Linked DNA regions of Homo sapiens: region 2 is linked to region 1. Evidence: fine-mapped expression QTL. Tissue or cell type: whole blood. Region 1 holds a variant in brackets; the other region holds the start of a gene. All regions are shown on one strand. Distances are from middle to middle.

Region 1 (8,105 bases):
TTGGCCAGGCCGGTCTTGAAATCCTGACCTGAAGAGAGCTGCCCGCCTCGGCTTCCCAAAGTGCTGAGATTACAGGCGTGAGCCACCGCACCCGGCCCAGACATATGTTCTTAACGTACACTTTCAGAACAGCAGTTGAGAACTTTTTCCAAAATGTAAGCTCCTTGAGAGCAAAGCTCTCAGTGGGTCTCTGTGTCCTTTACTTTGCTTCTCTTGGTATCTTGTGGATAATATGCACAAAATATTTATTAAACAAGAGGATTTCCATTTTTTTCTAATATTAATAGTTCATTTAGTCTGTAGCTTCTTGAAGGCATAGAAAAGACTATTTTATTTTGCCTACTTATTTGGCAAGGTACCCATGCAGTATGCCAGGAGTTACAGGGCCTATTGAGAAGGAGTAAAGGGTCTGGGAGGGGTGGCAGGGAGTTGCTAATTCATGTATGGTGGCTAGAGAAGGCTTCACTGATGGGGTTGATGTTTCAGTGGAGACTTGAAGGAGGAACAGGAACGCAGCATGAGACTGTCTTGGGGAAGAGTGTTCAGCAGAGGCAGCAGTGCTCAGCTAGCCTTGAGGGGAACATCCAAGTTGGTCATGTGAGTGCAAAAAGGCCAGTGAGGCTGCAGCTGCGTGAGCACGTGCTCAATGACGGGGTCAAGTGCAGCGCCTCTTGGTAGTAAGAGTAGCTGAGTGTAAACACCTAGGGTTCGCTCCAGTGAGAAGGGGAGCCTTTGGAGGGGGCAAGGCCCACCCCCACCCCCCAAAACTGAGGGGATAGTGGCACCAGTGCAGTGAGAAATACTGGTCCTCTGTCCCAATGAGGTGGCAGTAGAGTTAGGGAGAAGGGATTAGGTTCTGCTTGTGTTTTATTTTTTTCTTTTATTTTTCTCTGTGTGCTTTTATATAGATTGGATGTATTTTAAAGGTAGAGCTGGCTTTGCTAATGGATATGCTGGTGGATTGGATGTGGGGTGAAGGGAGAGGAGTCAAAAATGACATCAGGTTCCCAAGGATGTCCTGAGGGACAGAGCTGGCATTTACTGAGACGTGGAGGACAATAGGAGGAGTAAGTTTGGGGTAGAACATCAGGAGTTCAATTTTGAGTATGTTGAGTTTCTTGTTAATGTGACTTGGAGATATTTCCCAATGAATCGTCGTCTGTCTTGAAAGTGAGAGTTGAAGGTTTTCTGTACAGTCTGTATGTTGAGCCATACATTTTAGCATTCTATTATTTTGATTGTCCTCTTTGGTGTTTCATTTCCTAAAATCTCTTCTATCTAAGAGATCCCTGAGCCTAGCAGCCAGGAGTGAATTTTCTAGCTTTTCCACCTCTGCTAGGTCCTTCATCAGTTGTTCAGCATGTCTGGGACAAATAATTTTGGGGCGGGGGGGTGCTGAATTTTAGGACAAACGGATGTTATAGATAAGCTGGTCCCATTATCTAATAGCTTACAAAGAAAAAAATATAATGTATACAGTGGTTGAAAAAGTAGGAGTTACAAAAAAATGTGTTTGCATTTTAACTTTTCAGGAGATGTTACAGCCCAGATAGCTCTTCAGCCTGCACTGAAGTTCAATGGTGGTGGTCATATCAATCATAGCATTTTCTGGACAAACCTCAGCCCTAACGGTGGTGGAGAACCCAAAGGTTGGTATATATTGGTGCACCCTTATCTACATTTTGTGCACAGTAGGAATCGATTGTTGATTTACTGAAGTTACCTTATACTTGTTTTTTGTTTTTTTTGTTGTTGTTTTTTTGAGACAAGAGTTTTGCTCTTGTTGCCCAGGCTGGAGTACAGTGGCGCAGTCTTGGCTCACTGCAACCTCCGCTTCCTGGGTTCAAGTGATTCTCCTGCCTCAGCCTCCCAAGTAGCTGGGATTACAGGCGCCCGCCACCACGCCTGGCTAATTTTTGCATTTTTAGTAGAGATGAGGTTTCATTCACCATGTTGGCCAGGCTGGTCTTGAACTCCTGACCTCATGATCTGCCCACCTTGGCCTCCCAAAGTGCTGGGATTACAGGCATGAGCCACCGTGCCTGGCCTAAGTTACCTTATTCTTACCAGAGGTATCATAGTGGCATATTTTTCATAACAACGAGTATGATAAAAGTTGTAACTTTCAAAAGGACACAAGTAGGAATGGAGAATGCTTTCATGGGGTTATGTCATAAGATTTTATGTTCACGCCAACATAGAATATCACATCAACTCCACCTTCTGGTTTCTGGATGGTACTTCATATTAGGGAAAGACTGAGAGACTTCATTTTATGAACTTTTTTTTTTTGAGACGGAGTCTTACAGTCGCCCAGGCTGGAGCGCAGTGGTGCAATGTCGGCTCATTGCAACCTCCGCCTTTCAGGTTCATGCAATTCTTGTGTCTCAGCCACCCAAGTAGCTGGGATTACAGGCATGTGGCATCACTCCCGGCTAATTTTTATATTTTTGGTAGAGACAGGGTTTCACCATGTTGGCGGGGCTGGTCTCGAACTCCTGGCCTCAAGTGATCCACCCACCTTGGCCTCCCAAAGTGCTGTGGTATGGATGTGAGCCACCGCGCCAGTCTAGAAAAGATGAACTTTCTGTCTACTAGTTTCTAGGGCCTGGATTAGATAGTTAACCGTCTGTACCTTTTTTCATCTATGTGATACAGGGATAACAATGGTGTTGTTTTGAGAATTAAATTATAGTGTCATTTGCTATTTTTCACTCTTTCCTAACTGATAAAAAGTCAGTTGTTCCAGGAAATTAGGTTTTCTGGGTATTTTTAAAAAGTGTTCAGGGAATGAGGAGAGTACAGGGCTAGATGGTCTTGTTCGCTATCACTGTTTCCTTGACTTCCTGTGTAGCTTGTGGAGGCCCAGATGACTTTAATTATCTTCTTCACCCAGGGAGGGCATGAGGCGTAAATGTAGTTCTTGTCTCTTGTTTCTGGGCTCCGGATATGCACCCTAAGTTTCTGTGGTTTTATTGTTCATTTTTAATCAGTGTTATGGAAGGCAGCCTATCTTATGCACTTGAAATAAGCAATTTCATTTTAAGGTAATGATGAATGAGGAGAGTAAGCTTGGGAAACTGGGCAACTTTTTCTTTATTTTTGTTTTTATTTATTATTATTTTGGAGATGGAGTTTAGCTCTTTCGCCCAGGCTACAGTGAAGTGGCTTGATCTTGGCTCACTGCAGCCTCTGCCCATCCCGGGTTCAAGTGATTCTCTGCCTCAGCCTCCCGAGTAGCTGGGATTATAGGTGCCTGCCACCATGCCCGGCTAATTTTTTTGTATTTTTAGTAGAGAGGAGTTTCTCCATGTTGGTCAGGCTGGTTTTGAACTCCTGACCTCAGGTGATCCACCTGTCTCGGCCTCCCAAAGTACTAAGATTACAGGTGTGAGCCACCGTGCCTGGCCAACTTATTTTTTTTCTGAGTTCAGTCTTCTAGACTATCGGTTAATACTTTTGAAGTTTTGTCAGTTACCAGAATATCAGATATATTCATATGCAACCAGTGGTTTTGGTATGCTGCCATTTTTGTTTAATCTGTACCACATTCCATCATTTGTGCTTATAAAGATGATTACTTTTAAACCCGTAGAATAAGAGAAGTGAGATTTTGACCCAGTTGATTTAGTTGATGTGACTAATCTAGAATTATATTCTGTATTACTACAGAATAAAAGGATTACAGCTCTTAAAGTATACCCTTAGTTCAGTCGTAGAGAAAACTGCCCATCAAGACAGGAAGAGCTGGGCTGCCTTGGAGAAGAACAATGACTTTATTCCCAAATGGAGGCGTAGAAGAAGGAGGGTAGAAGTCAAAGGAAAATTTTCTATTCAGGGAAAAGAAAAAGCTAACAGAAAGTAGTATTTCTTTCCTAACAAAGATAGTACAGTGAGTGGGGAAATCCCTCTAACACGATTCATTAAAAAATGTGAACTACGCAGCTGGAGGCCATTATCCTAAGCGAATTAACCCAGGAACAGAAAACCAAATACCACATGTCTCACTTGCAAGTGGAAGCTAAACATGGAGTACTTATGGATATAAAAATGGCAGCAACAGACACTGAGGACAGAGCAGGGAGGGAGAAAGAAGGGGACGGGGGGTGAAAACTGTTGTATACTAAGCTCGCTACCTGGGTGATGGCATCAATTGCACCCCAGACCTCAGCATCATATGATACCCGTGTAACAAACCTGTGCGTGTACCCTCTGAATTTAAAATAAAATTTGAACCGGGCACGGTGGCTCACGCCTGTATTCCCAGCACTTTGGGAGGCCAAGGCGGGTGGATCACCTGAGGTTGGGAGTTTGAGACCAGCCTGACCAACATGGAGAAACCCTGTCTCTACTAAAAACACAAAATTAGCCGGGCGTGATGGCACGTGCCTGTAATCGCAGCTGCTCGGGAGGCTAAGGCAGGAGAATTGCTTGAACCTGGGAGGCAGAGGTTGCAGTGACCCGAGATCATGGCATTGCACTCCAGCCTGGGCAACAAGAGTGAAACTCCGTCTCAAAAGGTAAAAAATGAAAAAAAAAAAAAAAAAAAAAAAAAGTTGAAGTTATAAAAAACAAAAACGTGAATTAAAATTGTGAAACTTAGATCCAGGTGTCGCATTCTGAT[G/A]TTGTCTAATTTCTTGGGCCCTATGACAAAAATATTTTAATACATGTAATATAACATTTTACTGTAATTATTGAAATCTGTTCATTTGTGGGTGGTTTTGGATTTTTTTTTTAATAGGGGAGTTGCTGGAAGCCATCAAACGTGACTTTGGTTCCTTTGACAAGTTTAAGGAGAAGCTGACGGCTGCATCTGTTGGTGTCCAAGGCTCAGGTTGGGGTTGGCTTGGTTTCAATAAGGAACGGGGACACTTACAAATTGCTGCTTGTCCAAATCAGGATCCACTGCAAGGAACAACAGGTTAGATTTAAAAATTGTGATTTCATTTGGGAGAGATGCTCTACTGTAAAGCATTCAACTAGAAATAAGGAAAACTAACAGTGTTTTAAGAACATGTAATAATTTGCAAATCTTAACAGATAACACCCAGAGTCTTGTGTAAGTAAAAATGTTTTAGAAGTCCTGATATTTCATAAAATTAAGTACACGTAATTTTATAGGTACATTAACAAACATGTTTTATTTTTATTTATTTTTTTTGAGACAGATCTCACTGTTGCCCAGGCTGGAGTGCAGTGGTGCGATCTCGGTTCACTGCAACCTCCGCCTCCTGGGTTCAAGTGATTCTCCTGCCTCAGCCTCCCAAATAGCTGGGATTACAGGCACATACCACCATGCCCAGCTAATTTTTGTGTTTTTAGTACAGACAGGGTTTCACCATGTTGGCCAGGCTGGTCTTGAACTCCTGACCTCAGGTATCTGCCTGCCTCGGCCTCCTGAAGTGCTGGGATTACAGGCATGAGCCACCATGCCCAGCCAAATGTTTTACTTATTAACCCTGCTTCATTCTACAGAGAATTAATATCAGCTTAGATAATTATATGTACTAAAATAAAAAAAAAATTAGCTATAGAACAAGAGTGAGGAAAAGAAATACAAGCAGAGACTGATTTCAGAGCTTGTACTGTTACCTCCTCTGCTGAGCATTTGAGGTTAAACTGGGACTAGATCTCAGGTTTCCAGACCTTCTGCCTTTCTGGGGCTCTTTGGTAGAGTATATGAAAATATTCGGCTTGGAAGTGCCAGGCTGGGCTCACCAAATACTTTGCTGTTGAGCCTAATTGGATTTAAAAAATGTCACTGAAGAGTATGGGAAATAGAGCCATGAGTTGTCTGGCAGAGGGTTGGGACTTTGAACTTAAAGTGATACCTTCACATCAACAACAGTCATTCTCTGCCCCTTCTTCTACCCCTGACATTGGAATACTCTTGATCTGTGGCTCACTTCACAGGATAGACCCAGATTTTGGCAGAATCTGAACAGCTCTTTTGGGACAGTGACATGGCATAACAATTTGTAAAAGCCACAAAAAATTTGTAAGCACCGATCTGTAGAGTCAGGTTATTTGTAGAGCTGCATGACCAGAAAGGCTGATATTTGTAAGTGAGTCCCAGCTACACTCCTTCCTCTCCCTGTGGAAAGCACATTAGAAGGAAAATGAGGGAATGTCATGGCCTTTTGTTTATAAAAATCATTAATAAATTTTGCTACTTGAAATTATTAATAATAAATTACTAGTGACCTCCCTCACAACTGATCAAGACATACTGGTTAAGAATTGTTTTTGTAGAGAGAGCTATAATTTATTTTGAGTGTTTTTGTGTGTGCGTGATGGAGTCTCACTCTGTTGCCCAGGCTGGAGTGCAGTGGCGCAATCTTGGCTCACTACAACTTCCGCCTCCCAGGTTCAAGCAATTCTCCTGCGTCAGCTTCCTGAGTAGCTGGGATTACAGGCGCCTGCCACCTCGCCAGGCTAATTTTTTGTATTTTTAGTAGAGGCGGGGTTTCACCATGTTGGCCAGGCTGGTCTCGAACGCCTGACCTCAAGAGATCTGCCTGCCTCGGCCTCCCAAAGTGCTGGGATTACAGGCCTGAGCCACTGCGCCCAGACCAAAAGTTTTTTTAAATGGATGTTTTACAGATAGAACTAAATTCTTCATTTACCTCACTTAATTTCTGAAAACACTGTGTCCTCCAACTGCTCTGTATTCCCAAAGATTAAAATTAGCCTTGGGGAGCAGAGCTGGTTCCTCGTAAACCCCTGTGAGTGCCCAGACCCTTTGGAGGAGGTTCTCAGTGGGCTTTTGCCTGCTCCCACAGATGTAACCCACCCTTCCTGCTGCTCCTAAGACCACCATGAGGAAGGCTGGGAATTGGCTCTTGAATTAATTTGTTGGTATTTTTAAGAATAGCTATTAAAGTACTGTTGTTAATTTTCCCAAGTCTATTTTATTGTTAGTATTTGTCACATTTTCTTTGTAAACAGTGAATTAAAAATATTTTATAGGAATATTCATTCTTATCTAGATTTCCTACTTATATAAAAAAACAAGTGAATGAGATTGTTACAAAGGGTAATTTTGTGTGAGTAGAATAATAAAAGTTGAAATTGAGAAGATGCAATGTTTTAGACTGAAACTGATGGTTGGTTTGTTTTCCCCTTCTTTCTAACAGGCCTTATTCCACTGCTGGGGATTGATGTGTGGGAGCACGCTTACTACCTTCAGTATAAAAATGTCAGGCCTGATTATCTAAAAGCTATTTGGAATGTAATCAACTGGGAGAATGTAACTGAAAGATACATGGCTTGCAAAAAGTAAACCACGATCGTTATGCTGAGTATGTTAAGCTCTTTATGACTGTTTTTGTAGTGGTATAGAGTACTGCAGAATACAGTAAGCTGCTCTATTGTAGCATTTCTTGATGTTGCTTAGTCACTTATTTCATAAACAACTTAATGTTCTGAATAATTTCTTACTAAACATTTTGTTATTGGGCAAGTGATTGAAAATAGTAAATGCTTTGTGTGATTGAATCTGATTGGACATTTTCTTCAGAGAGCTAAATTACAATTGTCATTTATAAAACCATCAAAAATATTCCATCCATATACTTTGGGGACTTGTAGGGATGCCTTTCTAGTCCTATTCTATTGCAGTTATAGAAAATCTAGTCTTTTGCCCCAGTTACTTAAAAATAAAATATTAACACTTTCCCAAGGGAAACACTCGGCTTTCTATAGAAAATTGCACTTTTTGTCGAGTAATCCTCTGCAGTGATACTTCTGGTAGATGTCACCCAGTGGTTTTTGTTAGGTCAAATGTTCCTGTATAGTTTTTGCAAATAGAGCTGTATACTGTTTAAATGTAGCAGGTGAACTGAACTGGGGTTTGCTCACCTGCACAGTAAAGGCAAACTTCAACAGCAAAACTGCAAAAAGGTGGTTTTTGCAGTAGGAGAAAGGAGGATGTTTATTTGCAGGGCGCCAAGCAAGGAGAATTGGGCAGCTCATGCTTGAGACCCAATCTCCATGATGACCTACAAGCTAGAGTATTTAAAGGCAGTGGTAAATTTCAGGAAAGCAGAAGTTAAAGGCAAAATTGTAAATCAGTCGAGATCGGGTGCCTTCAGGGTGGTATGGCT
Region 2 (8,105 bases), 120 kb before region 1:
ATGATTGGCACAGTCAAGGTTGCCCGAGAGATATCCTTGAAAAATCCCTCAGAAGATCACATGGGGGATCAACATAACATCTCACAGCAAGTCCAACAGAACGATTTCTTCCCCTCTAGCACTGGAATGGAATTCTTGTTTCTTTGAGTTCCAAATTAGGAGTCAGTTTCTTTTTCTTTTTAAACACTGAAACTCACACTCAACGCAGTGAGAGGTTCATTAGGGAGTGGAACATGATGGAGACAGGTGAAAGCCATTCTCAGTTGGGGCACAGGGAGAGCAGCGCCAGCTGCACAGGCAGCTGAAGCCATCCCCGCCAAGCATGGATGGAGGTCACCACACTCCTGGAAACGGCACGCCCGCCCACGGGAAATGCAGACAACAGCAACAAGGAAACAAAAAGGCACCTGGAGAAACAGGCCATACCTGCGAACTCTCCAGTTCCCAGTCAGGATATCGTGTCTAATTTTCTTCTCCTGTTCTTCATTCATATATGGGATTCCGTTTTTGAGAAACTTAAGACAGAAACAGAACAACAAACAGAACAAGGAGACAAGTCAGAGGGATCCTCTGTGCCTGATTTCACGAGGACAGGTAGAAAGGGGAAAGGAGACGGGCTGTATAAGCCAGTTCGTCTAGATCACTTGTAAGACATTCCCAGGCCGGGTGCGGTGGCTCATGCCTATAACCCCAGCACTTTGGGAGGCCGAGGCAGGTGGATTGCCTGAGGCTAGGAGTTCAAGACCAGCCTGACCAACATGGTGAAACCCCGTCTCTACTAAAAATACAAAAAGAATTAGCTGGGCATGGTGGCGGGTGCCTGTAATCCCAGCTACTTGGGAGGCTGAAGCAGGAAAATCACTTGAACCCGGGAGGCGAAGATTGCACCACTGCACTCCAGCCTGGGCAACAGAGCGAGACTCCATCTCAGAAACAAACAAAAGACATTCCCGTTCCCCTCCTCCAATGCCATACCTTGTTATAGTTGAAGCCATACTGATTCAAAAACTGAACACTGGAAGCCTGGAAGGAGAATTCTGAGTCCAAAATCCCAAACGTTGTAGGGAAGAGATAGAAGTTACAAGAATGGGCTATATACCTATAATAAAACAAACATACAGAGAAAAAGCCACAACCATTTAAAAAACTCTGGCTCCCAGGGCTGGCTTCAGGGTGGGCTCTTTCTTTTAGGCAAGAAGAATCTGAGTGTGCCCGAGTGTCTGCTGTGTTTCAGGAGCTATGATTGGCACTGGGGGTGCTAAATGAAAAAGGCAGAGAGCCTGCCTTCAGGGCCAGCGTATACCACAGAGACAGCCCCTCCACAAGCTGCCCAGGGATGCCAGGTTAGGGCGTGCAGGCTGGCACCCTCAACTGCTCATGGGGGGTGGGGAGGCATCCTGATAGTTGGGGCATCCTTTCTGCCTACTGTGTCAGGTAGTTTAAACATCACTTTCATTACACCACACTGTGTCAGGCGCTTTTATTAATATAGGTGCACACTGGAGACAATGGAAATGGGGAAAGGAGCACTTAAGGTACAGAGCAAGGCTGGCGGGAAAGGTACTGCTTCCAGAGAGACATCAAAGACAAGCTGGAATCCGCAGAGGGCAGAGTGAGTGGAGGAACAGACACAGGAGAGAATACGGAAGATCCAGGGCAAAAGTGATCGGGGCACCTGAGGCAGAATTTGAAGGTGGCAGCTGTGGAACATAGGTGGGAAGCACCTATGTTTGCAGAAGCTCTTGATACATACTTGTTTGCCTCTCCTTCAATAGCGGAAAACACAGACAATCCTGGAAGAATGACCGTAGAGGGAATGAATGCCAAGGAAAAGCAACCTGAATTTCACTACAAAGACAAAAACAACTCAAACAGTACTTTGCGCCCACAGATACTATGTGGGCTGTACAACAGGATAACATCTTTAATGACAAAAAAGAAAAGACAGACTGGAAGCATGAGAAATGTCAAATTGTAATTCACACTGAATTTGCTAAAATCTAATTGTGGCCTGTTCTTCAAATACAGAAGTAAATATTAAAATGACATTCTCATAGTTTTAAAACTATCCACAGAAAATACCAAAAACCATTAAGATTTATATATTTAACTCATTTAAAATGTCTATTCCTCCCCCCTCAAAGAAAACCATATGCAAAGTTAAAAAAAAAAAAGACTTCAGGCCAGGTGCGGTGGCTTATGCCTGTAATCCCAACACTTTGGGAGACCTAGGCAGGTGGATCACTTGAGGTCAGGAATTCGAGACCAGCCTGACCAACATGGTGAAACCCTGTCTCTACTAAAAATACAAAAATTAGCTAGGTGTGGTGGCGCGCACCTGTAATCCCAGCTACTCAGGAGGCTGAGGCAGGAGAATTGCTTGGGCCTGGGAGGCAAGGGTGTTGCAGGGAGCCAAGATCGTGCCCCTGCACTCCAGCCTGGGCAACAGAGCAAGACTCTGTCCCCCTTCCCCCCAAACAAATTTGGGTACAACAATGGAAACATAACTACAACTGTTTCCTATACTTCTCAAAGAGGTCTTATAATTAAAAACAAACAAACGAACAAAAAAAAAACCATAACAGAAAAGTAGCAAAGGATCAGGATAGAGAGGAAAACACACACACGTTCAGCATCATTCATAGTAAAAGCAGGGGCTGGGCGTGGCAGCACTCCCAGCTACTTCAGAAGCTGAGACTGGAGGATCTCCAGAGCCCAAAAGTTTGAGCCCAGCCTGGGCAACACAGCAAAAACCCAATGGTGCGGGAGAGGGCACAGACAAACCCAGAAAAGTAAAATCTGGCCCAGGGTCTGTTTCTGTAAATACAATAACATTTTACTGGAATGGAGCCATGCTCATTTGTTCATGTATTCTCTACAGCTAATTTCACATTACAAAAGCAGGATTGAGTAGCTGTAAAAGAAACAGCATTACGCAACCGTTAACAGCTCTGTCTTGACCAGCCTGGCCAACATGGTGAAACCCCATCGCTACTAAAAATACAAAAATTAGCCAGGCCTGGTGGCAATTGCCTGTAATCCCAGCTGCTCTGGAGGCTGAGGCAGGAGAATCACCCGAACCTGGGTGGTGGAGGTTGCGGTGAGCCCACATCGCGCTACTGCACTCCAGCCTGGGCAACAGAGCGAGACTCCATCTCAGAAAATAAACTAATAACTAAATCAACAAATAGATCTGTATGAACCGATACAGAAAGATCTCCAAATCCCATCAAGGAAAAAAAAAAAGTTTCTGAAACTGAGATGACCTTAAAAAAAATTATTTTTGTGTGTAAATTTTCTTAAGAAAAAAAAATCACAGGCCAGGTGTGGTTGCTCACGCTTATAATTCCATCACTTTGAGAGGCAGAGGCAGAAAGATTGCTCGAGCCCAGGAAGTCAAGAACAGCCTGGCCAACATGACGAAAACCCATCTGAACAAAAAATTTAAAAATTAGCTAGGTGTGGTGGTGAGCCTGTAGTCCCAGTTTACTCAGGAGGCTGACGTGCTAGTATCACTTGAGCCCAGGAAGTCTAGGCTGCAGTGAGCTAAGACTATGCTACTGCACTCCAGTCTTGGTGACAGAGCAAGACCCTGTCTCAAAAAATAAAATAAAAATCGCACACACACAGTTTTACTTGAAAGAGTAACAGTGAGTGTTCCTTAATACTGACTTATTTAAGCACGGAAACAATGCTGCTAAATTTGGTTTGCTCCGAAGTGTTGATTTCCATATGTATACAATGGCCCAACACAAAACAAGCATACAAAACGATACTCAATATCCTTGAAAAATCTCAGAGCTGTTTTTACAGTAGGAAATCCAAGGACAATAAAAATACCTTCTTGAAAAACTCTAACAGCTGATATTAAACTCACCAATCTGACAGACTGTAAATTGCTGAACACTCTGACGGGTCTTTAGATACCACTCCGATGGCAAATCAAAAAGACTGTGAACAAACAGGCATCTCATTCCACGAGCAATGACATCCCATCCCGGCACTATGGCCTCCGCGGCAGGACCACCACTCGCAACCGGGGAGGATTTTTTCCTTGTTACAACAACTAGGGAGCACTACCATCATTTAGTGGACAGAAAAAAGCAAGGTCCTCCAACACGTAGGAGCAAGCCACACAAAACGTCCTGCCCCCCAAATGCCAACAGGCTGCTGGCCAGAAACAGTGCTGGTCTGGCCAGGCTCTTATACAGAGGGGACACAGCTTTAGTTTTACCTGATCTGCTGGGGCCCAGACAGGTTAGAACGAAGGCCCGTGAACTCTATGTCCAGACCTGCCAGGAAGGCAAAAAATAGCAGTCCTCGGGTGCAGAACATCGCCAGCACTCCTCACACTGTAGATCTGCAGGCGGCCAAGGCACCCGCGCTCACCTCTGCGCTCAAGAAGCCAAGTGAGGTCAGGAAGGGAAAATGGAGGAACCAAGGCAAGGAGCAGCCAGGCACCTGGGCGCACGGGGCTCTGGCCAACAAGGGACGTGGGGCTCGGAGTGTACTTGCTGCTCAAAGTCCCACCGCCCCGGGGCTGGAGAAGGAAGCCCCCCTGTCCTTCCCGAGGCCCTCTCTGAGGCCCTGTGGCCTGGCAACCGTCCCGCCACCCCCTCCTCAAGCTCGCCCGGGGCAAGGGGCTCTGTCCGGCACAGCCGCGAATCCCAGGCTCTTCACCCACGAAGTCGGCCTCCTGGACGAGCTCCTGCAGCAGAGGGAGGCTCTCCTCGAACTCGTCGGCGCCCACGTCCATGGCCGTGCAGCTCCGCGGAGTCGCCCAGCGCTATCACGTGCTGCCCACGTGCTGCCCACGCGCTTCCGTCGCGCCGCCGGGTCTTAAAGGGCGCACACATGGAAACCAGGCAGCTGCCTCCGCCCCACGTGCCCAGCTTCCCCGTGTGCTGCTGGCGTCGCCCACACCTGCCTGCGGGTGTTTTAATTGTACGATTTGCTACAGAGGTTTGATTGCAATTGCAATCAAAGCCTGTTTACCTGGCTCCTCAGCAATTTCTTTGCAGCCCTTAACGTGAGAATGTCATTTACATGGACTTAGAATGTTAAGAGGCGTGGCAGGAGACGAAGACAGAGTCCAGAAAGGGTGAAATCAGAAAAGCGGAGCAGGAACAACACCGGACGCAACTGCAATAAGCAGATCCTTTGCTGCGGCTCACGGTCTTCTAAATCACCTCTTCCCAACTTCTCCATCACTGCCAGTATGTCTGTCCCCATTCCCTCTCCCACGCCCCTGGACATCTTTTTCCTCATTCTGCTGTCCACCTTACCACTGTCTTCACACCTGCAATCAAACTTTGCAAAGCCTCAAGAACTGCCCATTAAATTGAAGGAATCCTTGGTCCCCAGGGATTATCTCGTGCACTCACTCCTTGCGGAAATCCCTACCTACATCATCACATACATGTGAGCTTAATTTTTACTTTTGTTACTGTTTCCAGTGCAACTAGTCCATGGTCTTCCTTACAGTGTCCTCCCTTGAATTCTAGGCTTCTACTTGAACAGCGTTTTGGAACTATGGTCCTCAAAGTGAGGTGCTCAAATCAATCTTTAAGGTTAGCGGAGAAAACATTACCGTTATACTTTATTTTTTCCTTTTGAGACAGTCTCACTCTGTCACCCAGGCTGGAGTGCAGTGGTGCCATCTCGGCTCTCTGCAATCTCCACCTCCTGAGTTCAAGCGATTCTCCCGCCTCAGCCTCTGAACAGCTGGGATTACAGGCATGCACCACCACGCCCAACTCATTTTTGTTTTTAGTAGAGATAGGGTTAAACCGTATTGGCCAGGCTGGTCTCGAATTCCTGGCCTCAAGTGATCCACCTGCTTCAGCCTCCTAAAGTGGTGGGATTAGAGGTGTGAGGCACTGCATCCGATCTTCAATTATACTTTTAAATGCCTCTCCGGGACATTAATTAAGCAAAAGGGGACTATTAAGCCATTTGATTCTGAAGACCTCTCAGAACAAATCATACTTCATACAGATGTGTTCCATTTAAAATAACACATTGAATACTCAAATTGGCAGAAGTAACATATTTCACTTCTAAACAAACATTTAATTGGGGTATACATTAAAAAAACTGGAAAACAATGCTCTAGAAGCCACCTTAACTGCCTACAGGTTTTTTCTCACATTTATCAAATAGCCAAAAATTAACACCTTAATCAGCTCCTTTCAGAGAACTGCCATGATTCCCATCTACCCAAGCTCAAATTTTAGATTAACTTGCATGCATTTCAAGTTTCATCTCCTATCTAATAAAATGTTCACTTCATGGCAAATTGAGCGCCCACTAACCCCAACCATTTCCACCTCTGCTTTCAGCTCCTGATGCCACCTCCTTCCTCTTTCAAATTTGTTTCTCTTACTGTTGGGAACCAAGAGTCCAAGTGAGGTTGGCATTTGGTCCTTTCATTTTCACATACTGACTGTTCTATAGTATTAGATTGATACTGACATTTCCTATTTTAAAAAACAACCCACACTCCGAGCAGCAAACAACTGTCATTCACTGAGATCACTCGCCATGAACTAGACACAGTAATAAGTGCTTTACATCAACCTCATATGTGCTCCACTGCCACAGTGAGCTCAGACAATGTCATATAACCAGAAAATAAGAGTTCATAATATGCCTTTATTTTGTAATTTATAAACAACTTCTGACTTGCCCTTTGAAAGTTAATTATAATTGATGACTGCTTTTCTTAGATGCTTCTGAAGCCCAAGAGAGGGGCAGAACGTAGTTCTTGATTTAAAAAAACAGAAAGGGGAGGAGGATGACCTTAACTACAAATAATATTCCACTGCAACATTATTGCTGTAAAACTTCCAAGCTGGCTGTTCTTCCAGATGCTCTCTTTTGATGGCTGTAGTGGCTGACAGATTTATATTTACATGTTCAAAACAATTAATGCTTCCATTTATTCATAGATTCTCTGAGGTTCCCGTAGAACCACACCACCTTCTGTCATGGCACTTTGTAGTCGTTTCATCTGGTTTTGAAAATCAGAAAAAAAAGGAAAAGATTAAGTCAGCAGCACGAGTAGGCTGAAAATACTTTCACCTTCCAAAAGACAGAAATAAATTGATTTGTTCTTGCTAACTTCCCAGCCTACAACGGTTTTTCAGAAAGTGATCTTAATAATGATGTAAGTAAAAAGGAAATGTAGAGATGTCAAGGTTCAGCAGCATTTCAAAATATTATATGGACAAGATGTCAATATATGAACAGGAAATACAGTGGCTGACATCATGGACTACAGAATCAGTCACCCTGGGTTTGAAATCCACCATACACTGACTCTGGGCAAGTAAGCCTCAGTTTATTTCTGTATAGAATGAGAGTACTAGTCCCTACCCTATGGACTGATGTGAGGATTAAATGAAGTAACACTGTTGAGTACTCACCAAAGGGTCTGACACATGGAAAGTATTTGGTAAGTAAAAACTGTTATTATTATGTAAGTTATCTAATGCCAAGAATTAACACAATACCTTTTCAATAAGTACATGAAAACAAAAATACCGAGTCTGAGGCTGCCTCCCACGGGGTTGGTTGGTAGACCATGAAGTTGATTCCCGCCTCTAAGCATCTCTGTGCCAGCACTCGTCCTATACTCTCACAAGCCACCACATTTCTGGTACTATAAAGGTGCTTTTTAATAGCCCACTCACGAGTGGAGGCCGAAACCACAACCTTGCCATTCTGATGCTCCACAAGTGCTTCTACATGATGCTGAGTCCTTATAACTCGCAACCTAAATGGGGTGAGAAGATAATAAAATCACAGAAGAATCTGTATCCTAAAGTTACATTAATTGAGGTGAATAAATGACTAAATATTTTTCAACAATCCAGTGTTTGGTTCATTTACTTCAACATATTTAACTTGGATTTTGCTTGGGAAAAGTATTTTTCCTCCGCCTTTATGAGAATATCCTCAATAATAACAAACTAAATAGTTCAAGTATCATGAAGAAATTTGTTTCTGAAGAGCTGAGTTTTATTTACAGATCTACTTCAAAAAGAGATTTGAAGAGACAGAGCTAAGTTACTGAACATATGCATGACATGGATATACTTACT

Evidence for each region. PIP is the estimated chance that this variant, and not a neighbour inherited with it, causes the effect.
Region 2: PNLDC1 starts here. The variant in region 1 is fine-mapped to the expression of PNLDC1 in whole blood (TOPMed, PIP above 0.99).

What each region holds. Positions count from the first base shown.
Region 1 is chr6:159,681,670-159,689,774 of GRCh38, reverse strand. It overlaps SOD2 (superoxide dismutase 2), which reads left to right. Exons shown (of 5, transcript NM_000636.4): 3 at 1,533-1,649; 4 at 4,742-4,921; 5 at 7,137-8,105. The coding sequence ends at 7,282. Among named protein-coding and RNA genes, the nearest start is that of SOD2, 7.5 kb to the left of the region's middle. RefSeq lists a silencer at 2,208-2,458. The variant G/A (reference allele first, on the strand shown) is at 4,625.
Region 2 is chr6:159,796,959-159,805,063 of GRCh38, reverse strand. PNLDC1 (PARN like ribonuclease domain containing exonuclease 1) reads right to left here and starts at 4,788. Exons shown (of 19, transcript NM_001271862.2): 1 at 4,681-4,788; 2 at 4,235-4,292; 3 at 3,878-3,951; 4 at 1,754-1,793; 5 at 976-1,099; 6 at 427-515. The coding sequence starts at 4,756. MRPL18 (mitochondrial ribosomal protein L18) reads right to left here. Exons shown (of 4, transcript NM_014161.5): 3 at 7,546-7,777; 4 at 6,635-7,012. The coding sequence ends at 6,941.